Linked DNA regions of Homo sapiens: all the other regions are linked to region 3. Evidence: fine-mapped expression QTL. A gene starts in region 3. Each other region holds a variant in brackets. All regions are shown on one strand. Distances are between the middles of the regions.

Region 1 (8,169 bases), 460 kb before region 3:
ACGTCACTGCCCTCTGTAAGACGAGAGGCCTCTGCAGGCTGGCATGGCAGAACCCACACCTGGGCAGCTGTCCCCTCTGCCCGTGGGGTCGCCACGGGGTCCATTTCACACAAGCCCAGAGGGAGCCTCTGGCTCACCATGCAGGGAAGGGCGCTTTCCAAAGCCTTGCCTGCTTCCACCAAAACACTGGCTCCAGCTCTCCTCACGTGGATGGAACTCCCCCGGACTGGAAGAAGGAGGGTTTTACGAGAGTCAGCTTTTCATAGGGGAGAATGCTTGCCAGCCCGCCCGCCAGGCCCCACCGAGGCTGCCAGAGGTGACCTTCAGGCTTCAGCAACTCTGCCCTTCATCCAGAAGGATCTAGACCTGCTCCCTCGTCGAATATCACTACAATGACCTGGCATCGCATCACCCTGGAAGGACCAGAGGAAAATGGCGCCATCTGTTCCCATTATTCTTGGCGGGGGCAGGAGCGTGAGAGGTGGGGCTCTGGACCGGGTCAGGCTGTGAGCACACCACTCAGATTTCTGGCTAAAGTGCTGAACTTCACAGCCGAGAGCATTACAAAAGAATTTTTATTCCTTTCCTACTCTTCCTCCGTGGGTGCCCGACAGATATCTCCAGGGATGGGAGTTCTCGGCTCCATCCCAGGCCCGATTCTCCAGTGGTTTCCAGGATGTGGGGACGGCCGGTGCAGGCTGCTGGGTGAGGGAGAAGCATGGTCTCTGGCCCGTTCATCTCGGGAGAACCTCTGCTGACCACGAGGCCCTGCGAGTGTGCTGGGGACCCAGCTACGCTTGTCCACTAATCACCAAAACAGACCCCGGCTCCTGGCAGAACTCGCTGGGAAACTCCAGGTCGGCTGCCCGGAGCCCCTCCCTCCCAGCCCTGGCCTGGACCTGCACATGCAGCTCCCATGCCACCTCAAAGCCACAGAGCAAACCCTACAGCAGGACCGTTGCTCCTACTCTTATTTACTTTTATTTTTTTTATTTTTTAGAGACAGGGTCTCGCGCTGTTGCCCAGGCTGGAGTGCAGTGGCACGATGTTGGCTCACCGCGGCCTGAACCTCCAGGCTCAAGCAATCCTCCTGCCTCTGCCTCCCGAGTAGCTGGGACTACAGGTGCGCACCACCACACCTGGCTAATTTTTTAATTTTTGTAGTGATGGAGTCTCGCTATGTTGCCCAGGCTGGACCTGTTCCTTCCTTTAAGAGGAAGTGGGGAGATGGGCGGCCCTGTGTGTGCGTCCCAAGCTGCTCAGGCAGCGAGCTGGCCCTGGACCTGCCCACTGCTGGACTTTCAGGTTCCCATTGTGTCCACGCTGCCACATCCTCCCTCAGACTTTCTTCAGAACCACAGAATGAAAATCGGCAGCCGGGAAGAACCAGCTGGCCTGGCCACCCTCGGGAGAAGGCCCTCGTTCCCAGGAGAGGCACACTGAGGTATTTAGCAAGAAATGTCATTCCTGCTGGTTCTGGGGGGAAGTAAGATAAATTCACAGGGAAAGAGCAGAAATGTGGTAATGTGTGAACAGGCCGTACGGCTGAGCTTGGGCGGTCTCAGCATGGTGTCACCTGTGTTGGTTTTGCTTCCCTGGGAGCAGGATGCCGGCCCTACCTCCTTCCCACCAAGCTGGGGACCCACACCTATGAGGCAATGCAGGAGGCCCCTGAACCTTTGGACGAGTGAGATCCCATGTTTTGGCTACATTCGATCCCCCAAAAGACGTCAGGGCCCCACCCCCACACCCGTGCACGGGCCCTTCTTTGGAAATAGGGGCTTTGCAGATGCTCAAGTGAAGACATGGTCATTAGGCCGGGTCCTAATTCACTAGCACTGTTATTCAAAGGTGAGATTTCCACTGAGCCGCGGGCACACCCAGAGAGACGGTCACACGTAGACACCCGGAGGAGACAGTGTCGCCAAGCCCAGGAGAGAGGCCCGGAGCAGACCCTCCCTCCTGACATCCGCAGGAACCAGCCCCACCATCTTCACTTTGGACTTCCAGCCTCCAGAACTGTGACGATAAACTCCCGTTTTAACCACACCATCTGTGATACTTGGTTATCATGGCCCCAGGAAACCCATCTGCCCCACATCCACCCCGATGTGAAGAACTGTGGGGAAGGCGGGGCCAGTCTCCTCCAATCACAGTGAAGAACCTGCACCTCACCCCTGCCTCTGGTCCTCCCATCTTCGCCTTTCCAGCCTTGGCTCAAATTCACCCCAAAGGCGTCTCAAGTCCTGGGCCACGCCCAGCACCCACCCGCCTCCTGGGACCATTGGATGTGTTTGGGCCTCCCAGGAAGATAGCAGAGTCCTGTGAGAGGTGTGCAGGGTACAGCTGGAGTAGGGGTGCCCCATGACCCCTGAGGAGGAGGATCTCAGACCAGGCAGGGCAGGGCTCTTCCCAGAGAGCTCCGCCAGGTGTCAGGAGCCCAGAGGCCCAAACGGTCTACCCTGCACCCCCACGTCCTCCTCGCTGTGGAAGCCTGGTGGGCGGAGCATGGTCGTGGTGGGCCAGGGACAGCAGCGGGTCGGAGCCTGAGTCTTCTGGGCTGGCCCACCTGCCCCTTCGCATCTGTGTGCGTCCCCTGGGGCTTCCCTGACAGCAGCAGCAGAAGCGATCCTTTCAGAGCTCTGGGGCCGGAAGTGCAAAGTCAAGGTGGCTCAGGGCCGCCTTCCTGCCTCTTCTGGCTCCTGGTGGCTGCGGGAGCTCCCTGACTTGTGGCCACATTGCTGCTGTCCCTGCCTCTGGCTTCACACTGCTGTCTCCCCTGTGCGTGCCTCTCGTTTCCCTGTCCTTGTAGGGACACCCATCATAAGATTCAGGGCCCCACCCCACTCCTGTGCGAACCCAGCTCCATGACACCAGAAAAGACTCTGGCTTCAAATAAGGCCACACCAACAGGTCCCCAGGGTTGGGACATGGGCATATCCCTCAGGGGCCACCATTGCACCTGCCTCAAGACCCCGCCACCCTCAGCCCCAGAACTGGGATGACCTGCTGATTTGCCCACACGGGGGAGCTGTACAGGGAGTGGGGGTCCAACAGTGTCCCAGTGGACCGGGTCAAACAGGTGAGGGACAGCACTGACCAGGGCCAGCCCAGGCCCTGCCCAGACCCCTGCCGTGAGACGTGGGGACCTCCTGAGGTGCCATTTGGGGGCTGGGACCTGGGTTGGATCCGGGGAGCCTGCCTCAGCCGCCCCACTGCCCTGGGACCCCAACTCTCCAGGTGAAGAGTTGAAGAAGACCTGTCGTCTCCTTCTTGAGGCCCCTGGGGCTGTCGGGGGAATGGTCACACAGGACCCCACAGGCACTCGGCATCACGCGTGGGCATGTATGTGTGTGCCTGCGTGTGTGTGGTGCACACAGCCGCTCTCCCGGGACAGGGTAGGGCTCACCACAGCCCCCACAGCCAGTCCTGAGCTGGGGACAGCATACGAGTCCTCGGCCCCTGCCTCCCACGCAGGCCCCAAGCCGACTGCGGCCTCTCTGACCATTTCCATCGCTTTACTCGGAAAGATCCACAGGCCAGCATGGCTCTGGGCGGGAGGCAGGAGGCTTCCAGCAACCTGGAAAAAGAAGCAAGCAGCCACTCGTCCCCCCTCACCAGCACCTCGGTTCCAGACACCCAGGCCGGTGCAGCCTTCCCCGACGGAGCAGGAAACTGAGGCCATGAGAGACAGACGGAGGCTTCACAGCCAAGAGGGCTGAG[C/T]GAGGCTCTACACGCACAGGTGACCTTCAGGTAGCAGCGAACACCACACACGCTGCATGGGACATGCACATGAGCACCACACACCACACACAAGTACACACATATCACACACACACACCACACACAAGGGCACACACACCAGGCACCACACACACCACACCCAAGTGCACACACCAGGCACAATACACACACCACACAAGTACGCACACCCGGCACAATACACACCATACACAAGTACACACACACTCTACACAATACACACCAACACAAGTGCATACACACCAGGCACACACCACACCCAAGTGCACACACACCAAGCACAATACACACACCACACAAGTACACACACACACCCAGCACAATACACACCAACACAAGTGCACACACAGCAGGCACAATACACACTGCACCCAAGTGCACACACACCAAGCACAATACACACACCACACAAGTACACATCCAGCACAATACACACCACACACAAGTGCACACATGCCCAGCACAATACACACCAACACAAGTGCACACACACCAGGCACATTACACACATCACAAATGCACACACACGAGGCACCATACACACCACACACAAGTGCACACACACCATGCACAATACACACCACACACTTGCACACACATCACACACAATACACACTACACACCACATACCACACAACACACGAGACACAAATACACACCATGAGCGATACATACCACACAATACACACCACAAGCACATGCAGCACGCACAGCGTACAGACCATGTGCACCCACATCACACACAGACACCCCCAGCTTCTGCCATGGCCCAGCCCGGCAGGCACGAGAAGGGCAGTTCCTCCCGCCCCCCTTGGGGCGGAGGGTGCAATCATGGAGCTGCTTTAGTAACCGAAGGTCAAACACTGTCCACGTTTAAACACAAGGCAGCCACAGCAGCTGCTCCAGGCGGATCTCCAAAGGTGTCACAGTGAGCAGCCTCCCACAGCACTGCCCTCCTGTCCCAAGGGCCCTGCCCCCCCGTCCGCTCCCCTCCCCTTGGCATGATCCACGCAGGGACCTGGATGGTGCCCACACAGGCTCCAGCACAAGCGCCACATCCCGGCACAAGGCCATGGGCACCTCCCGGCGCACCCACCTCCCTTGGCCAGAATCGCCTAGGGGAGGGCAGGGAAGCCCCACCACCAGCTCTCGCCTGGGCTGGGCCACTCACCAGCACATGACCAGGCAGGTCGCCTCCCTCTCAGAGCCTCAGTTTCCCCTCCGGAAGATGGCCAGGACCTGAATTAACAGGGGAGGCAGACCAGCCTGGACTCACGCTTAGCCTCCCTGTGGTGGGCGGAATAAGATCATGATTCCGGAACCTCACGTGGTGAAAGGGGGACGTTCAGGACGCTGAGATGGGAGAAGATCCCAGGGCTCCTGATGTCATCACCAAGCTCCTCAATGCTGAGCCAACCTCCCTCTTGGCCAGAAGTAGATGTTGATTATGGCAGCAGAGGTTAGAGACACGCGCTGCGGGCTCTGAAGGCAGAGGACCCTGAGCCCAGCAATGCAGGCCTCTAGAATTTGGAAAAGGCAAGAAACAGATTCTCCCCAAGAGAAAAGATTCTCCCCTGGAGCTTCCGGAAGGACCCAGCCCCGCCAACACCCTGATGTTCGTGGAAGCAGTGAGAGTGATTTTGGACCCTGACTTCCAGAACTGTGGAGGAATAAATGTGTGTTCCAAGCCTCCAAGTGTGTGTGGCCTGTTGCAGCAGCAAGGCGACCTGCCGCGCTCCCCCGGCGTGGCCATGTGACCCTGGACACCTGCTGTGACCTTGCTGGGCCTGTTTCCTGGTCTTCAGCATGTCGGGGTCAGTCACTCCAGGTGCTCAGGAAAGGGTGATAGGTGACAGGCAGTGTGGCCTGTCCCTGACCTCGGCACACACCCGGCCCTCGGTGGCGTAGCCAAAGGCTGGACGGCTGCCCCCTCCCACTGCTGGTCCCGGGTGCCCAGCTGCGGGTCACTGGGCTGTGTGGGTCTCCGTTTCCCCAGCCATACAATGAGGACGTTAAATGCTGGGAGTTTCTGAGACCTTCTTCTGCCCCACAGGCCTCTGTGCAGGCCTCCATCACCCCAGCCATGGGATGAGGACGTTAAATTCAGGGGATCTGAGACCTTACTCAGCCCCACAGGCCTCACATGGCACCGCCCTGGGCCTGTGGGATTGTTGTCTGACAAAACCAAAATCAAAGCACAGGTCCCAGAAAGGCCCTGACCCCTCAGGAGCAAGAGCATCCCAGGCTCCCCAGGCGGCCTGTGATGTCCCCGTGTCCTCCGCGAAAGGACAAAGGGGCCGCCGACGCTCCAATGACACTGACCAAGTCCCGTGCTGTGGCGGCCGCCCTGGGCTGTGGATCTGAGGTCCAGACGGCCCTCTGTGGAGGCCCCCACCCCCACCGCCGGCAGCAGGCCCCAGCCGGAGCTCCTCCCCCACCAGCAGGGTGCAGGGGGTTGTGCGGGGCTCCAGGGTTTGAGGCCGGGCCACGCTTTGCCACCACCCACCACCCTCTCCCCACCCTTGCTTGTCTCCACTGGGAAATGACAAGTGGTGCCGTGCTCGCTCCAGCATCTCATTTGATGTCTATAGTGGGTTTCGAAACTGGGTCACCTGGCTGGTGGAGAAACACGACGTGTCCCACGTGAGGAAGGGAGGCCCCTCCGCCCCGAGGAGAAATATGATGGTGACGCTCACCACGACACAGAGAAACCTGCAGGTGGTGCAGCCACAACAGGCCACACATGGTGGGATTCCGTTTCTAGGGAACACCCGGAACAGGCACACACAGAAAGCGGGTCCATGGGTGCGAGGGGCTGGGGGCGGGGGATGGAGAGTGACTACCCAGAGGAACAGGTTTCCTTCTAGGGTTAGGAAAAAGCTCCAAAACCAGCGAGAGGGGACGGGTGCACAATGCCATGGACAACTCACTGCCACCAAACTGCCACCGAACTGTGCCCTTTCAGATGGTGGCAGCGGTGAATTTTAGGAGTATGTATTTTGTCGCAGTAAAGAAGCTTCATGCCAACCCAGAGGAATGACAAATTTGCCTGGTGTCCTCGTGACTCATCTGAGAGAATTTCACTTATGAAACCAATAACAGAGCCAGGGCCTTTTGGAGGGTGCTGCAGGTGCACAGAGGGAGGGGTTGCCTGTGTGGAGGCTGAGCATGGTGCTGACGGGCACGGAAGGGCACACTGGGCACCATGGCTCAGCACCAGGCCACTGGGCTGCCAGGCAGGTTCCTGAAGCCCTCAGGCCTGTGTCCTTGTCTGTACAACCACAACAGGCATGGGGCCAACTTCCCAGAACTGGTAGACGGGGCCGATGGTGGGCACTTTGGTACCAAACCTGCCGTGGGAATGAGCCCTTCCCCTCCCTGGCTGGTAGCAGCCGTGGGGACGTGGCGTGGAAGATTTCGAGGCTACAGCCCCAAGGGTCTTCTCTCCCCTCTTCTCCCTCCCTAGGCAGGTCCACATCACAGGGAGATGTGGGCATATGGCTGCCCCGGCCTCACAGCTCTGATGGCTGACCCCGTCCTGCTGCATGGGCCTGACCCCTGGGCACTGCCCCAGAGCCCACCGAGTGAGACGGCTCCTCCTGGGTCCCCTCCGTTGGAGAGGCCTGGGAGGTGGGGGCAGAGAGCCAGGCCCAGCCTGGGGTGGGAGGCCAGCCAGAGAGATGTGGTTCTCAGGCCCAGCAAGTTGGGGGCGCCCAGGCAGGCCCCGGTGAGACTGCAGGGTCTGGGCAGGGAGAGACCAGGCTCAGGCTCAGGGTGGTGCCAAGCAGGAGGGAAACCCTTAGGTGGGCTGACATCCCAGGGTGGGATGGTCCAGAGAATGCTGGTCGCCTAACAGTCCTGCGGACAGTGCACCTCCGAGGCCGTAAGTCTCACTGCAGAGAGAGCGCTCCCAGGTCCAGCCCTCTCACTCGAGACGTCACAATACGCTCCCAATAATGCGGCTGGAGGGACCCTGGCTCTTTAAAACGTGAGTCTGCCATGTCTTCCTCCACGCAGGAACCACCGATGGCTTCTGCCCTCCCACTCAGAGGGCGGGACAGTGTCACTACTCCCATGCCAATGACAAGAGGCCTGTGACCCGGCGCCCACCTCCGCTTGGGGCTCAGTCCCACCCAGCTTCCCCAGCCCCACACCCTGGCCCCCTTCACGCTGTACAGAGCCACCAGCGGCTTCCTGCCCCAGGGCCTTTGCGCACAACGCCCTCCGCCAGCCTCTCGCGGCTCACTGCTGCCTGCCCAGAGAGGCTCCCGGAGCCCATTGGGTGCCTTAGGCCTTCCCTGCTCGGTGTTGCTTCAGAGCATGCGCGCGTGTCGTGGTGAACGGTGGCTCCCAACAACTCAGTCCACACGAATCCTCAGAATGTGACCTCTCTGGAAACAGGGGCCT
Region 2 (8,169 bases), 38 kb after region 3:
GCTGGGTGCGGTGGCTCACGCCTGTAATCCTAGTACTTTGGGAGGCCGAGGTAGGCGGATCACAAGGTTAGGAGTTCGAGACCAGCCTGGCCAATATGATGAAACCCAGTCTCTACTAAAAACACAAGAATTAGCTGGGCATGGTGGCGGGCACCTGTACCAGCTACTTGGGAGGCTGAGGCAGGAGAATCGCTTCAACCCGGGAGGCGGAGGTTGCAGTGAGCCGAGATTGTGCCACCGCACTCCAGCCTGGGTGACAGAGCAAGACTCCGTCTCAAAAAAAAAAAAAGGGCATGAGAGGATCACTTAAAGCCAGGAGTTCGAGACCAGCCTGGACAACACAGCAAGACTCCAACTCTAAAAAAAAAAAAAAAGCCAAGTGTGGTGGTGTGTACCTGTGGTCCCAACTACTCAGGAGGCTGAGGTAGGAGGATCACTTGAGGCCAGGAGGTTGAGGCTGCCGTGAGCCATGATCACACCACAGCACTCCAGCCTGGGCAACAGGGTGAGACACTCTCACTAAACAAACAAACAAAAAAAGATCATGGCCCAGCAATTCCACTTGTAGGAGTTTATCCTAAGAAAATAATTACAGCTATGTATAACCCATTATGCCAATTTAAAATTGTGGTTGAGATACTGGGAACAGAAATTTGGTTAAATAAATCACAGTTCATCTGTGTTAATGGGTGGAGCTGTATCCCCAAAAGTTATGCTGAAATCATGGCCCCAGTGTAGCTCAGCATGTGACCTTAGTTAGAAACAGGGTTGCCGCAGATATGATTCAGTAAGATGAGGTCACTAACATGGGGGTGGACCCTCATCCCACACACTGCAGTCCTTATAGGAGACAGGGCGAAGGTGGCCGTGTGGCAATGGGGTCAGAGGCGGGAGACACACAGCCATGGGCTCCGGACGGCTGGGGGCCACCAGAAGCTGCAGGGGCAAGAGGTCCCTTGCAGGTTTCCGAGGGAGCGAGGTCCTGCCCACACCTTGAGCTCAGACTTCCGGCCTCCAGACCGAGACAGAATGCGTTTCTGGCTTTTTTTTTTTTTTTTTTTTTTTTGAGACGAAGTCTTGCTGTTGTCGCCCAGGCTGGAGGGCACAATCTCGACTCACTGCAACCTTTGCCTGCACGATCTCGGCTCACGGCAACCTTTGCCTCTCGGGTTCAAGCGATTACTCCTGCCTCAGCCTCCCAAGTAGCTGGGATTATAGGCGCCCTCCATCATGCTCAGCTAGTTTTTGTATTTTTAGTAGAGACGGGGTTTCGCCATGTTGGCCAGGCTGGTCTCGAACTCCTGACCTCCGGTGATCTGCCTGCCTTGGCCTCCCAAAGTGCTGGGATTACAGGTGTGAGCACTGTGCCCGGCCGTGTTTCTGTTCTTTTAAGCTCCCGACCCCCGTGTGTGGTCCCAGGAGGCTCCTGGGATGGGTGAGATGGGGGTGTGGCCAGGGGGTTACTGAGAAGCCCACTTAGTGTGAACAGACATTCACGACACCTGGTTGTGTGGACACCTGTGGACACACCTGGACGGCAGGGAGGGAAAACCTCTTAGTAAAGCAAGTATCTGCAGCCCAGCCATGTCTGGCAGCCAAAGCCTTCAGGAGGAACGCAAACAGCTCCACCCGCAGCTCTTAAGCACACTGGAGACCACCGATGGTTCTTTTTTTAAGTCTCTGAAATACTTTTCTCTCTCGTTGACCAGCCTGGGCAACAAGGTGAGACCCCATCTCTATAAAAAATCAAAAAATCAGCTGGGCATGGTGGCACACACCTGTAATCCCAGCTACTTGGGAGGCTGAGGCAGGAGAATCCCCTGAGCTCAGGAGGCAGAGGCTGCAGTGAGCTGAGATCGCGCCACGGCAGTCCAGCCTAGGTAACAGACAGAGAACCCTGTCTCAAAAAAATAAAAAACAAAAACCTGCCACTTTTCTCCAAATTCACCCCATCCAGCCTCCTCCTGTCACAAGTGGCTCCAGGACTCACCCACAGAGTAGGACTGCCACCTGCATGGACAGCAGGGACCTTGAGGAGGGCTGTGCCTGGAGGCCGAGTGGGGCTCACCTGCCCATCGGGCCCTTGTAAAGTTTCCACCATTTCAAATGACCCCAAGACAGGCTGCATGGGCCCTGGTGCTCCAAGAGCCGGAGAGAGGCTCACTTTGGTCTCTCCACAGTTCACCACGACAGGGACTAGAGTCTGATCGCTGATTGTCTAAGGTTGATTTTTACCAAACAAAACAAAACATTAAAAGTGAACTCACTGGAAACTGGAGCCCTCACACACCATGTAAGAACGTGACACGCAGCACCTGGTGAGAGGTCCGGCAGCGCCACGCAGGGTGGCCACGCCGCCCGGCAGCGCCTCCCTGGTACACGCCCAACAGAACTGAAAAGTGTGTCCACGTGGAAACCTGTGCATGAACCAACACCCACAGCGGCTCGCTCCCTGGCAGCCAAGCTGGAAACACCCGGATGCCCATCCATGGGTGGAAGCCTCAGCCACACGTGGTCCCTCCACACTGTGGACCATGACTCAGCCACGAAAAGGAATGGAGTCCTCACACAGGCTGTGTGTGTGAAGCCCAAAAACCCTGTGTGAGGGGAAAATAGACACAAGGCCCATGAGCCGTAAGATTCCATTCACCGGACACGTCAGAAAAGGCAGATCCTTAGAGACAGAAAGGGGAGCGGGTCGGCCAGGGGCTTCGGGGAGCACAAGGGAGTGACCCCCATCAGGGCTGGGGCTTCCTTCCGTGGTGACAAAGATGATGTGACGATGTGTGGTGGCAGGACGACTCTGAGAACACACTAAAAATGACCCGCACACTTTCACCAGCGAATTCCGTCTCAGTAAAGCGGCTATAAAAGAATGAAAGGCCGGGCGCGGTGGTTCACGCCTGTAATCCCAGCACTTTGGGAGGCCGAGGCAGGTGGATCACGAGGTGGTCAGGAGATCGAGACCATCCTTGCTAACACAGTGAAACCCCGTCTCTACCAAAAATACAAAAAATTAGCCAGGCGTGGTTGCAGGCGCCTGTGGTCCCAGCTACTCGGGAGGCTGAGGCAGGACAGCCTGGGTGACAGTGAGACTCCGTCTGAAAAAAAAAAAAAAAGGAAGTGCGGGCATCCTGGTTTTCTGCAGATGGACCAGGGGCTCCCCTGACACTGCTGGGTCGGGGCCGGTGGGCGTTTGACTCGCTGGGTCCTGGTAAGTCAAAGAAGCAGCAGCCTCGGGGCCTGTGTGAAGTGACAGGGGTCTGAACAGAGGGGAAGCCCTCACCGGGGGCGGGGGTGGCAGCGTGCTGACTGGGAACGGCTGCTGGAGGGATGGGCGCTGGGCCCCGGGGACCGCGGGAGGACAGTGGGCCGCTCTGGGCGCACGTGGGTGGCTGGACATCCAGGTCTGCGTGGTCACACCTTGGTCTTTGTCTGGATGCAATGATCCATTTCCCCGGTGGACGGCAGGCTACATGGCCCCTGCCTGTAAGGCTCAGCTTGGCAGGGTGGCCGCTCCTTGCCTCAGCCCCTCCTAACGTGTGGAGTCCCAGAGCTGGGCCAGGTCTGGGCTTTTTCCTCTCAAAGGCCCTCCATGTCTCATGGGACACAATTCTGTTTGGCCCTTTTAGCTTTGGATCCCTTTTGAGATGGTTTATTTTTTTGAGACAGGGTCTCACTCTGACAAACAGGCTGAAGTACAGTGGCGCGATCTTGGCTCACTGCAACCTCTGCCTTCCGGGCTCAGGTGATCCTCCCACCTCAGCCTCCTGAGTAGCTGGGACTACAGGCACATGCCACCATGCCCAGTTAATTATTATTATCATTATTTTTTGAGATGGAGTCTCACTCTGTCACCCAGGTTGGAGTGCAGTGGCGTGGTCTTGGCTCACTGCAACCTCCGGCTCTTGGGTTCAAGCAATTCGCCTGCCTCAGCCTCCTGAGTAGCTGGAATTATAGGCACCCACCACCAAGCTCATCTAATTTTTGTATTTTTTTTATAGAGATGGGGTTTCACCATGTTGGCCAGGCTGGTCTTGAATACTGACCTCAGGTGATCCACCTGCCTCAGCCTCCCAAAGTGCTGGGATTACAGGTGTGAACCACCGTGTCAGGCCAACTTTTTTGTATTTTTGGTAGAGATGGAGTTTTGCCACGTTGCCCAGGC[T/C]GGTCTTGAGTGAACTGAGCTCAAGCAGTCCACCCGCCTCCACCTCCCAAAGTGCTGAGATCCCAGGTGTGAGCCACCACGCCCAGCCCTGAGATGGTTTATTTTGAAGTCACTGAAATGGCTTTTCTGAGGACAATGGAGGCTGGAATGAAAGGAGGACCTAGAGAGAGGTGTCCCCTGAAGCTGATGAGGAAGAAAGGGAGGTGGGAGGACAGGGGGCAGGACGCCCGCAGAGCTGCTCATGGGCTGAGAAGGGACCTTGGGCTCAGTGGCACCTAGTCACAGTGGGCGAATGCGCCCATGTCAGGGTGAGGTGCATCCCACTGAGGCAGCAGAAACCTGCAGTGCAGGCTGGGACGGTACAGCTCCCTGAGGCCAGCCTGAGGGGGACTGGCCACACACGCCCAAAGCTCCTTGCCCTCCACCTCCCCGAGTGCAGATTCATCCTCTCAGGTGGCTTCTGCACTTCCTGCTGTCTCCAGTCCAGGTGGGAGAGTACAGAATGGCAGGTGGGCCGGGGGCACAAGGCCTGGGATGGGAGGGAGCAGTATGTTTCGCCCGTTACACTGTCTGCCCATGCCCAGGACCACTGCTGGGCTCCCTTCGGGCTGGGAGTGAGGCCGCACATCTGAATACTGGGTGCCATGTGCCCGACCCTCCCTGCAGGCTGCGTCCTGAGGCTTCCCGAGGCGGGTCTGGCCTCCCCAGAAGGTCGGCAGTCAGCAGAGCTGCGTCCGGATCTGCTTGTGCTCACCTGGGTCATCCTCCTACCTGTTCCAGGCCACAAATAACATGAATGGATGCAGCGGAAAATGCTGTAAAGGGAGTGGGCTCCACGCTCATCACTCACCAGAAAATACTGCGGGGAGGAGTCCCAGGGCTTGAGGGAGGGGGCTCCACGCTCACCACTGACTCAGAAGATACCGCAAGGGAGCACTCTCGCTGGGAGGAGTCCCAGGTCTTGGCGACAGTCCTACTCACTGCCATGACTTACAACGGGGAGGGCATCAGCCAGGGGAGAAGGTGCGGGCGGGGCCGGGGAGACCAGCCGCAGCGTGGAACCCTCCCCAGGCGGAGCCACACGGGACGCTCGGGCTGCGAGCACAGGTGCGGGATGCTGACGGGGAAGCTGTGCGAGACTCAGTTCCCAGGGCTTTTGCCTAGGCTGGCAGTGCGGCCGCCTCTGCCTGGCATGTGCCGAGACTCTTTATGCCCAGAAGGAGGATGCTGGGCATAAATCGTGGCATGTGCAAAAACAGTGTGGCAAGGTGAGCTGCTCCTATCAGCGAACAGCGGGGGGACCTCCTGTTCCCAGACGCCAGCCGAGGGCAAAAACCTCCCACACATGTGCCTTCTGACCAGCCGAGGGCAACGTCCCACACGTGGGCCTTCTGAGGACAGCGTCCCAGGCTGCTGGGCCAGCTCTCATCTGCTGACCCTGTTCTTTCATTATTTATCGGCGCCTTTCTTGGCTATGAAAAGCAGGTGTGGACAGCCTCCCTGCAGAGTGAGCAGGTTACCATTGAACATCTAAAACCCCCACAGGGCACCACGGGCAGGAACCACCTTTCTTCTCTCCCTTAAAAGTCCTAAAAGGGCTGGATCCAGTGGTTCACGTCTGTTATCCCAACACTTTGGGAGGCTGAGGAGGGAGGATCGCTTGAGCTCAGGAAGTCAAGACCAACCTGGGTCTCACAGACAGACACTGTCACTAAAAAAAACTTTTTTTTTAATTAGCCGGGTGTGGGGATTCCGTTCCAACATGGCTGAATAGGAACAGCTCCGGGCTGCAGCTCCCAGCGTGATTGACGCAGAAGACGGCGATTTCTGCATTTCCAACTGAGGTGCCTGGTTCATCCTACTGGGACTGGTTGGACAGTGAGTGCAGCCCATGGAGGGTGAGCCGAAGCAGGGTGGGGCATCGCCTCACTCAGGAAGTGCGAGGGGTTGGGGGATTTCCCTTTCCTAGCCAAGGGAAGCCGTGACAGACTGCACCTGGAAAATCAGGACACTCCCGCCCAAATAGTGCGCTTTTCCAACGGTCTTAGCTAACGACACACCAGGAGATTATATCCCGGGCCTGGCTCGGAGGGTCTCATGCCCACGGAGCCTTGCTCACTGCTAGCACAGCAGTCTGAGATCCACCTGCGAGGTGGCAGCCTGCCTGGGGAGGGGCGTCCGCCATTGCTGAGGCTTGAGTAGGTAAACAAAGCGGCAGGGAAGCTCGAACCGGGCAGAGCCCACCGCAGCTCTGCAAAGCCTGCTGCCTCTGTAGACCCCACCTCTAGGAGCAGGGAATAGCTGAACAAAAGGCAGCAGAAACTTCGGCAGACTTAAACGTCCCCGTCTGACAGCTCTGAAGAGAGCAGTGGTTCTCCCGGCACAGTGTTTGAGCTCTGAGAACGGACACATTGCCTCCTCAAGTGGGTCCCTGACCCCCGTGTAGCCTAACTGGGAGATACTTCCCAGTAGGGGCCCACTGACACCTCATACAGGCAGGTGCCCCTCTGGGACAAAGCTTCCAGAAGAAGGATCAGGCAGCAATATTTACTATTCTGCAATAGTTGCTGTTCTGCAGCCTCCACTGGTGATACCCAGGCAAACAGGGTCTGGAGTGGACCTTCAGCAAACTCCAACAGACCTGCAGCTGAGGGACCTGACTCTTATAAGGAAAATTAACAAACAGAAAGGAATAGCATCAACATCAACAAAAAGGACATCTACGCCAAAACCCCATCTTTAGGCCACCAGCATCAAAGACCAAAGGCAGATAAAACCACAAAGATGGGGAGAAACCAGAGCAGAAAAGCTGAAAATTCTAAAAACCAGAGCACCTCTTCTCCTCCAAAGGATCGCAGCTCCTCGCCAGCAAGGGAACAAAGCTGGACAGAGAATGACTCTGACGAGCTGACAGAAGTAGGCTTCAGAAAGTCGGTAATAACCAACTTCTCCGAACTAGAGGAAGATGTTTGAATCCATGGTAAGGAAGCTAAAAACCTTGAAAAAAGATGAGACGAATGGCTAACTAGAATCAACAGTGTAGAGAAGACCTTAGATGACCTGATGGAGCTGAAAACCATGGCACCAGAACTACGTGACGCATGCACAAGCTTCAGTAGCCGATTCGATCTAGTGGAAGAAAGGGTATCAGTGATTGAAGATCAAATTAATTAGCCGAGTGTGGTGATGGGCGGCTATAATCCCAGCTACTCAGGAGGCTGAGGCAGGAAAATTGCTTGAGCCCAGTAGTTTGAGGCTGCAGTGAGCTGTGATCGAGCTACTGCACTCCAGCCTGGGTGACAGAGCCAGACCTTGTCTCAAAAAAAAAGTCCTGGCTGGGTGTGGTGGCTCATGCCTGTAATCCCAGCACTTTGGGAGGCTGAGGCAGGCAGATCACCTGAGGTCAGGAGTTTCAGGCCAGACTGGCCAATATGGTGAAACCCCGTCTCCACTAGAAATACAAAAATTAGCTGGGCACGGTGGTGGGAGCCTGTAGTCCCAGCTACTCGGGAGGCTGAGGCAGGAGAATTGCTTGAACCTGGGAGACGGAGGTTGCAGTGAGCTGAGATCACACCACTGCAATCCAGCCTGGGTGACCAGAGTGAGACTCCATCTCAAAAAAAAAAAAAAAAAAAAAAAAGGCCTAAAAGCCCCCAAATGATTGTCCACGTTCAGCGAGCACAGCTGTGAGCCATGGATCAGTATCCTTCAGAATTTCAGAGTTTTAAGAAACGCAGTTTCCATTCCTACTGGTTGCTATGGGATTATTATGAAGACGAGCAGGCCAGTGCTTGTCTGTTTCAAACGAGGGGCACTGAGCAACCCTCCCCGGACTCTGGTGGCTCGACGAGGCTGCTGTGGCAACAGGAGCTGGCCTGGGTGGCCCTGACTCTCCACTTCCTCTGTGGTCAGGGCTGACCCTCCTTAACCCTATTTTCCAAATAAGGAGTGGAGACACAGAGTGCTGCTCGCCCTGGGAGGCAGGAGCTGTGTGTGGGCCA
Region 3 (8,155 bases):
GGAGAAGGCCTTGAGTCAATTGGCCCTGCGCTCTGCTGCGCCCAGCAGCCCCGGGTCTCCCAGGCCAGCACTGCCGGCTACCCCACCAGCCACCCCGCCTGCAGCCTCTCCCAGTGCTCTGAAGGGGGTGTCCCAGGATCTGCTGGAGCGGGTGAGTCGTCCCCAGTGATGGCGGGTGGGCGCCTGGTGACCTGCTGCCCACTAACCAGGTCCCGGTACCTGCTGCAGATCCGAGCCAAGGAGGCACAGAAGCAGCTGGCACAGATGACGCGGTGCCCGGAGCAGGAGCAGCGGCTGCAGCGCTTAGAACGGCTGCCTGAGCTGGCCCGCGTGCTGCGGAGCGTCTTTGTGTCCGAACGCAAGCCTGCGCTCAGCATGGAGGTGGCCTGTGCCAGGATGGTGGGCAGCTGTTGTACTATCATGAGCCCTGGTACGTGCAGGGCGGGGTGAAGGGGCGTGCAGGGTGGAATTGCCTGGTGCTGCAGCTGCCTCCCCAGCTTTCTGAGCAGAGGTGTCTGTCACTGATCTGTTCTGTTCAGATGTGCAGTGGGCGCTGGCCTCTTGCACTGGTGTGTCCTGGGCGCTCTGCCCTCCTTGGAGCCACCCCTGAGCCTCCGCCCGGCCCCTCCACACCTGCAGCCTCTGGAGGCAGCTTCCCCCTCACAGCTCTGGCCCTTTCCCTGACCACCTGCAGTCCTTGGTCAGAAGGGGCCCCACATGCACCCTCCACTGCCTCCCAGGCCTCTGGTGACCAGGCCCTGAGCACATAGGGGTCCTGACGCTACAGGGCACCTCCTGCCTCAGGGCTTTCATGGGCTGGCGGCCTCCATGCTCGGTGCCTCCTCACAGGGCCTCAACTGTAGGCCTGGCTCTCTCCGGTCACTGTTCACACCACCCAGACCTGGGCCTCTGATCAGAACCACCTCTGCCCTAAGTCCTGGTGATGGGGCCCTGAGGGCGACCAGGCAGGCACAGAGGTTGGGTGGTCAGGCTGGTTTCAAGTGCTGCCCGTGCAGGGCTGGGGCCCAGCACCAGCCTCAGTGTCCTCCTCTCCTCCCCCAGGGGAAATGGAGAAGCACCTGCTGCTCCTCTCCGAGCTGCTGCCGGACTGGCTCAGCCTCCACCGCATCCGCACCGACACCTACGTCAAGCTGGACAAGGCCGCGGACCTCGCCCACATCACTGCACGCCTGGCCCACCAGACACGTGCTGAGGAGGGGCTGTGAGCCTGGGGGCCACTGTGGACAGACGTGGGCTTCAGAAGCTCGCTGGCCTGGGCCCACCAGCATTTTCTTTTATGAACATGATACACTTTGGCCTTCCTTTCCCCAGCGCCCCTGAGGGCCAGAGGCAGATGTGGGCTGCAGGCTGCACAGCCCGAGGGTCTCTGGCTGCGGGCGGTGGGCCCCTTCATGGGGCTCACCTGGTGGATTCACATTAAACCGGTTTCTGTGGGCACCTCTGTCCTTGCTGCTGGTGGGGAAGGGAAGCCAGATCCAGCACCCCCTGGGGGGCCATCGGGAGTGTGGCTGGGGGTGAAGGGGGCTCTGTGGCAATATGGGGTTGGGTAGTGTGGGTGGCAGGCCATCCCCTCTAATCTTGGAACCTCTGAATATGGGACCTCCCACAGCAAAGGGTGACTTTTGTCATTAAGAAAGACTGGGGTGGGTGTGGTGGCTCACGCCTGTAACCCCAGCACTTTGGGAGGCCAAGGTGGGCAGATCACGAGGTCAAGAGATCGAGACCATCCTGGCGAACATGGTGAAACCCCATCTCTACTAAAAATACAAAAAATTAGCCGGGTGTGGTGGTGGGCACCTGTCGTCCCAGCTACTAGGGAGGCTGAGGCAGGAGAATGGTGTGAACCCAGGAGGCACAGCTTGCAGTGAGCGAAGATCGCACCACTGCACGCACTCCAGCCTGGGTGACAGAGCGAGACTCCGTCTCAAAAAAAAAAATTTCAAGACTGGAGAGGTGATCCTGAATTGTCCAGCTACGCCCCATGTCATCACAGGGCCTTCATGACAGGGCCAGAGCCAGCCAGCTTTGAAGACGCGGCCCTGCCCCGACACAGGCAGCCTGGAGAAGCTGGGCAGGACAAGTAGGACATCCCTGGAGCCTCCAGAAGGGACTGGCCTCTGCCCACACCTTGACTTCAGTATTTCTGACCTCCTAAACTCTAATAAAGTCATGCTTACAGCCACTAGATCTGCAGAAGAGCCCTCGCTTGCTCCCCTAGAAGATGGGCCCACATGGCCTCTTCCTGCAGTGCCTGGAGGGTTCTAGCTCCTGAGGTGAGAACCAGGACAGGTTCTGCTGGGCATCACGCCAAGCAGCACATGCCCACAGTACAGCTGAAGTCTGGTGTTGTCCTGGGGCTCCCTGCCCTGGGGAACAGGAGGACAGGAGACGGCTCTTGTGGGAAAGCTGTTTACTGCGTTCTCCCGCTGTGTGTAATTGGGTTCAGTGTGGCTGAAACACAGCTTTGCCCCAGGCTTTGGCACTTCCAGCCCCAGGAGAGGCGCTGAACCCCAGCAAAGGAATGTGTTCCCTGTGGGCAGCCGGTGCCCCTGGTCACTGCAGTTGCCCAAGGCTGATATTTCCCTGGGATCCAGCTGGAGATGTTGGGCTGGGAGGCCCTGTGGTCACTCATACTGCAGGAGAGAGAAGAAGGGTACAGGTGCCAGCTTCTCCCTGCCCTTAAGCGAGGTCAGCTCCACCAGGCTCACGCACTCCAGGACCTCAGCCTGCAGGCGGCCCAGCAGCTCACAGGCAGCGTTCATGGTTCCTGGGGATGGGAGGGTGAGGTCCCCAGTTGGCCTGGGCTGCAGAGAGCAGGTGCTCCAGGCCAGCCCCTGGGTTGGGGAGGGGAAGGCATGGGGAGAGGAAGGTGTCGGCCTGGCCACCAGGCACCCTCTGGACAACAGTAAGCTGCATCCCATGTCACACAGCGAGGTCCTGTCCCACTCCCACCAGGCCCTTGGAGCCACAGCAGTTGGCTGCGGGGAGACCCTTACCACCAGTGGCCAGCAGATCATCCACGACGACCACCCTCTGTCCTGGCTCCAGGGCGTCTTTCTGAATCTCCAGCTCAGCCTGGAGTGGGAAGTGGTGTGTGGTCCTCAGCCTCCCGCAGAAAACAGCTTTGTTGCACAGCTTGGCAGCTGCCACCCTAGACCCTGACTCCAACCCCACCTTGCTGTTACCTGGCTGTGTGAGCCCAGCCTATGTCTCAACCTCTCTGAGCTCCCAAGGCCACTGTAACCACAGCAGCTCCACTTGACACGCCTGGGAAGGCCTTTTAGAACTGGGGGAGAGTGGCCACGGTGGCCTGGCCCTGCCCTTCCTCTGGCCACCCCAGCCCTCTTACCTTCCCGTACTCCAGGGAATAGGAGGCCCACAGAGTGGGGCCTGGCAGCTTCCCCCGCTTTCGGATGAGCACGCAGCCCAGTCCAAGCTCCTGGGCCAGGGAGGGGCCAAAGAGGAAGCCTCGGGAGTCTAGGCCTGTCAGGGTAAGTGACAGGAGTGACTCGGCAGCATGGGAATCCCCAGGGGCCAGGGTTGGCCGGTGGCAAGGGGTACCTGGTTGGCTCCCAGCTGAAAGGCCAGTGACATGCACCATTTAAGGAATGTTACCCATCACCTACCCGGAGCTGCTTCCAGGTCAGAGTGCAGACCTGGGTCTGTCTTTTAAGGGACCACTTCTTAGCTGTGTGTTCCTAGGGGAGTCACCACCCCTCTCTCTGAGCTGAGCAGCCCATCTGTAACTGGGCTGGTAGAAACCTGACAGGCCTCAGCTTACTCTCAAAGGCAGCTCTGCACCAGGGCTTCTGTCTAAAAAGGGAGTCTCTCGAGGTGGCCTGAGCTGTGATGGTTGGGGGACGCTCAGGGAAACCCTGCCCCGGCCTGGCAGGAGGTCAGGGAGGGCTTCCTGCAGGAGGTGAGAAGGGAGCTCTGGCAGTGTTGTGGCTCCAGCAAGAGCTGGCGCTTTCCTCAGGGCAGTGTCCAGGGAGTGGGCTGTCACACCCTAGGAGAGGCAAGACGGCCAGGAACACTCTGTTCTCCCTGGGCCACCTCTTGGGCTCTCCCGGAGGCCTCCAGGCCTCCCTTCCCTGGGTGGGCATTCCGTGATCTTCACCAGGGAAGGCCTGGCTCGTGGCAGGCGCTCAATACCAGCTCGCAGAAGGAACAAGAAGCAAGGCAGCTGGGCCCTGTGGATTCAGCTTGGGCACTCCAGGGAGACCAACTGACCCGGCAACTCGGTCACGCCTGTCCTGGGCTGGGGACCCGGAACCTGCGGGAAGGACGCCTGCACAGCGCGGCGGCCTCGGGGGCTCAATCTCACAACCCTTCCCGGGCGACCCAAGCACGGCGCCCGTCCCGGCGCCCCCTGAAGCACCCCAAAGGCCCTCCCCCAAGCAGACGCGCAGAGCCCACGTGCTGCCCTCGGCGCGCGCAGAGGCGGAAGCGCCCTAGATGCGGCCACTGGGCACTCGCCTGCGATGTAGTCGATGCGGCCCCCGTGGGTCGCCTTCAGGTGTCGCGCCAGGAGGCCGATGGCGGCGCGGAAGGAGGCGGGGTCCTTCAGGACGGGCGAGATGTCCCTGGACCCAAGGACAGGCCTGGTGACGCCGGGGCCGAAGGAGGGCAGGGCCCCGGGGGCGAAAGACGAGGGTTCCCGCCCCGCCCGCCCGGAGGTCGCGGGCCACGCGCTCCCATCCGTAGGCCCGCAGGTCGGGGCGCCACGAGGGCGGCCTGTGCGTGCACCTGAATACCACGCCTGGGGTGGGGAAGTCGGGGAAGCTGCGGATCCGCTGCTCAACCAGCTGCAGCTCGGAGTCGGCCATGGCCGCGTGCGAAGAGCCAGCGGCAGCCCGAGCGCGCCTGCGCGGGGACGGGCGGGACCGCCACGAGGGGTGGGGCATCCCCGGAGGGCGGAGCGTGGGTGAGGGGCGGGGCATCCGTCGCCGGAAGCCTGTACCGTATTTCATGGACTCCTAGGCGCCATCGATTTTAAGACGCGCTCGCATTCCACGCACCACTGAGCAGAACGTTCGAACCGGACAAAAGTGCGAGTCAAGGCGCCCTTCCTTGTCTCGGGCTACGCTTCTGACTGCAGCCAGGCAGCTGTGGGCCGGGGCCTTGGCGGCTGGAGGAGGGGCGTGAGCTGGTCTCGCCCACGCACCTGGCGCGCGTACGGGCCGCGCCCTTTCTCCTTTATTGGCCGAGATCCCCACGCTGCGCGCGGGAGGCTGGCGCGCGGGGTGGAGAAGGGCGTGAGGAAGCGGTCCAAGTAGCAGGAGGGCGGTGCAGGGCCCGGAGGGAGCAGCCCAGGGCGGAGGCGGCGGGCCTGGGCTGGACCGGCCGGGGGCGCTGGCCTCTCGCGGATGGGCCCTGCCGTTGAGGCGGCTCTTCCCCGCCCGGACCCGGGGGAGGGAGGCCGGAAGGTGTGGCCAGGCCAGGGCGCGCATCCGCGAGGGCAGAAGCCCTTCTGTCCGCCTGCAGAGGCCAGGTGACCCCTTAGCCTTGGGGTGGGGAGCTGTGAACCCCCTGGCCGCCCGAGGACTGGTACCCAGGGGGTTGTGTGAGGCATAACTCCCCCCAAACACAATTTCCTTTCAAGAAAATCCCCAGAGCTAAAATGCCTTGTGCTCTATTCCAAGACTTTTCTTCATTTCGCAACTTTTTTTTGAGAAGGACTCTCGCTCTGTCGCCCAGGATGGAGCACAGTGGCGCCATCTGGGCTCACTGCAAGCTCCACCTCCTGGGTTCCGGCCATTCTCCCGCCTCAGCCTCCCGAGTAGCTGGGACTACAGGAGCCCGCCACCACGCCCTGCTAATTTTTTGTATTTTTAGTAGAGACGCAGTTTCACTGTGTTAGCCAGGATGGTCTCGATCTCCTGACCCCGTGATCTGCCCGCTTCGGCCTCCCAAAGTGCCGGGATTACAGGCGTGAGCCACCGCGCCCGGCCCATCATTTCGCAACTTTTACAATTCAGCTTTGGCCTGGCAGTTACTGCAGAAGGGAAAACCCACTCAGTGGAAGGCAGCCCCCAGGAGCCTTCGGAGGGGGAGGCCGGAGGCTGCATGCGGCTGCTGGGGCCCCGGTTCCAGGGCGGGTGGGGGACCCATCGTCTGATGCCAAGGGGCGTGGTAGGGGCGGCTGCCTCGCAGTGTGCGGTGGTCAGGGCTGGCAAGGCCTGGGGCCTGGGCTCCAGACCCCTAGGGAAGGTGGAAATGGAGGACCCTGACATCCTCACGTCCCCGGGGAAGCTGCCACATGAGCCGGCCCCACCGGTCCAAGTGTGTGAGCTACACTTCAGCCGTCCACGTCCAGCCCAGGAGGCCTCCGCCTTCCCCTTCCTTGTTCCTGATTCTGTCTCCCAGATGGCCCGAGGGGGGCCTGGGAAGGCGTGGGGTGGGGGGGTACTGGAGGAGGGGCCTGGGGAGGGTTCAACACAGAATTGGCCCTGTGGCTTCCTTCAACCCGGGCTGTTGGGCTGGCGTGGGAACAGCAAGGAGCCCCGAGTCCTGCCCTTCAACAACCAATGTGGCGCTGGCCTCTGGAGGAGGCCGGCCGGGAGGCAGCGGGAGCTGGGCACCTGATTCTTGGCAGCTGCTGAGAAGGTGTGAAAGGAAAATAAATCTCCGGACCCCAAAATCACTCAGCCAAGAGAAAAATCAAGCTGGGAATTAGGCAAACCTGCCTCCCGTTTTATTTCTAAATAACATAGTTACAATGATAAGAAGCTACACGCCTCCCTCATAATTAGCGTCCAGGGAAATTCCTTGTGGACAAAGGACAGACGGAACTGGAAGTCATCCCTCTGGGGCTCCCCTGAGACAAACGCTTATATGATTGCCCCGTTCCCTTACTGTTTACATAAAAATGCGGATTCACTGGGCCAGACTCAATCGTGTATTCAGTGGAAGGCTGACTGAACCAATGTACGCCATACACATACTGATCTTGTGTCTCCCTAAGATGTATAAAGGCAAACTGTATCCCCAGCCACCTCAGGCACCTGTTGTCAGGACCTCCTGAGGCTGTCACAGGTGCATCCTTAACCTTGGCAAAATAAACTGAGACTGGTCTCAGATATTTGGGGTTCACAAAGGCGTGAGACGGCAGGGTCCTGAGGTCTGAGGCGCCGTGGGCGAGGAGGAGGGTCCTGAAATCTGAGGCGCCGTGGGCGAGGAGGAGGGCCAAGCACACGCCAGGGTCAGGTCCTGGGCAGGTGGAATTGTGCAGTCCCCCTGCGTCTGCAGGTGCTGTCTGTCTGGCTTGGGCAGGGTTGGGGGAGGACCGAGGCCAGAGCCATCCTTCCTCCAGGCACTTGCAGGGCCAACCGGAGATTCTAGGCCTGGCCTGAGTCTGCGCAGGTGCTAGTGGGACCAGAGGCACTTCTTGGGAATGGATTCTGGAGGTGTCAGACACTTCCCTAACTTTTCACAGCCCGGAGGTGCCCAGTTCTGGGAAATGAAAATTGAGAAAAAGAACATGCAGTTATTCAAGCTCTTCTGGACCCAGCAGCAGCGGGCATTTTGTTGTTGCTGTTCTGAGACAGTCTCACTCTGTCACCCAGGCTGGAGTTCAGTGGCGCGATCTTGGCTCACTGCAACCTCTGCCTTCCGGGTTCAAGAGATTCTCCTGCCTCAGCCTCCTGAGTGAGTAGCTGCTGGGATTACAGGCACGCGCCACCACGCCTGGCTAATTTTTGTATTTTTAGTAGAGACGGAGTTTCACCATCTTGACCAGGCTGGTCTTGAACTCCTGACCTCGTGATCCACCTGCCTTGGCCTCCCAAGGTGCTGGGATTACAGGTGTGAGCCACCACGCCCAACCATTTTTGTATTTTTGGTAGAGACAAGGGTTCCCCAAGTTGGCCAGGCTGGTCTCAAACTTCTGACCTCAGGTGATCCACCTGCCTTGGCCTCCCAAAGTGCTGGGATTATAGGCGTGAGCCACCGCGCTTGGCCTCGAGCAGTTTTGATGTGTCCCCTGCCCAGGTCAACCCCGGACCCCAACCAATTGGCCTCAGTGTGGGGACCACCTCGGTCCAGGTGGGCAGCTACACAGACGCTCCCCAGGAATCATGGGAACTTGGGAGATGGCACCCTCTTGACTCGGCCTCTCAGCTCTGAAGGCTGCCAT

What was found. PIP is the estimated chance that this variant, and not a neighbour inherited with it, causes the effect. A credible set is the group of variants that fine-mapping cannot tell apart.
Region 1: its variant is the best candidate, but not a certain one, in a credible set for the expression of APRT in putamen (GTEx, PIP 0.50).
Region 2: its variant is the best candidate, but not a certain one, in a credible set for the expression of APRT in lung (TOPMed, PIP 0.65).

The regions. Positions count from the first base shown.
Region 1 is chr16:88,345,538-88,353,706 of GRCh38, forward strand. It overlaps a transcript of ZNF469 not described here. Among named protein-coding and RNA genes, the nearest start is that of ZNF469, 33 kb to the right of the region's middle. RefSeq lists an enhancer at 4,219-5,186. The variant C/T (reference allele first, on the strand shown) is at 3,724.
Region 2 is chr16:88,845,468-88,853,636 of GRCh38, forward strand. All of the region lies in intron 1 of GALNS (galactosamine (N-acetyl)-6-sulfatase), which reads right to left. Among named protein-coding and RNA genes, the nearest start is that of GALNS, 7.4 kb to the right of the region's middle. RefSeq lists an enhancer at 4,707-4,876. The variant T/C (reference allele first, on the strand shown) is at 4,169.
Region 3 is chr16:88,807,053-88,815,207 of GRCh38, forward strand. APRT (adenine phosphoribosyltransferase) reads right to left here and starts at 4,876. Exons shown (of 5, transcript NM_000485.3): 1 at 4,768-4,876; 2 at 4,498-4,604; 3 at 3,371-3,504; 4 at 3,018-3,096; 5 at 2,287-2,788. The coding sequence starts at 4,847. The coding sequence ends at 2,646. It overlaps CDT1 (chromatin licensing and DNA replication factor 1), which reads left to right. Exons shown (of 10, transcript NM_030928.4): 8 at 1-151; 9 at 229-430; 10 at 1,063-2,206. The coding sequence ends at 1,226. GALNS (galactosamine (N-acetyl)-6-sulfatase) reads right to left here. Exons shown (of 14, transcript NM_000512.5): 14 at 6,682-7,473. The coding sequence ends at 7,387. RefSeq lists enhancers at 1-302, 3,210-3,745, 5,251-5,935, 5,936-6,619 and silencers at 4,629-5,028, 5,279-5,538.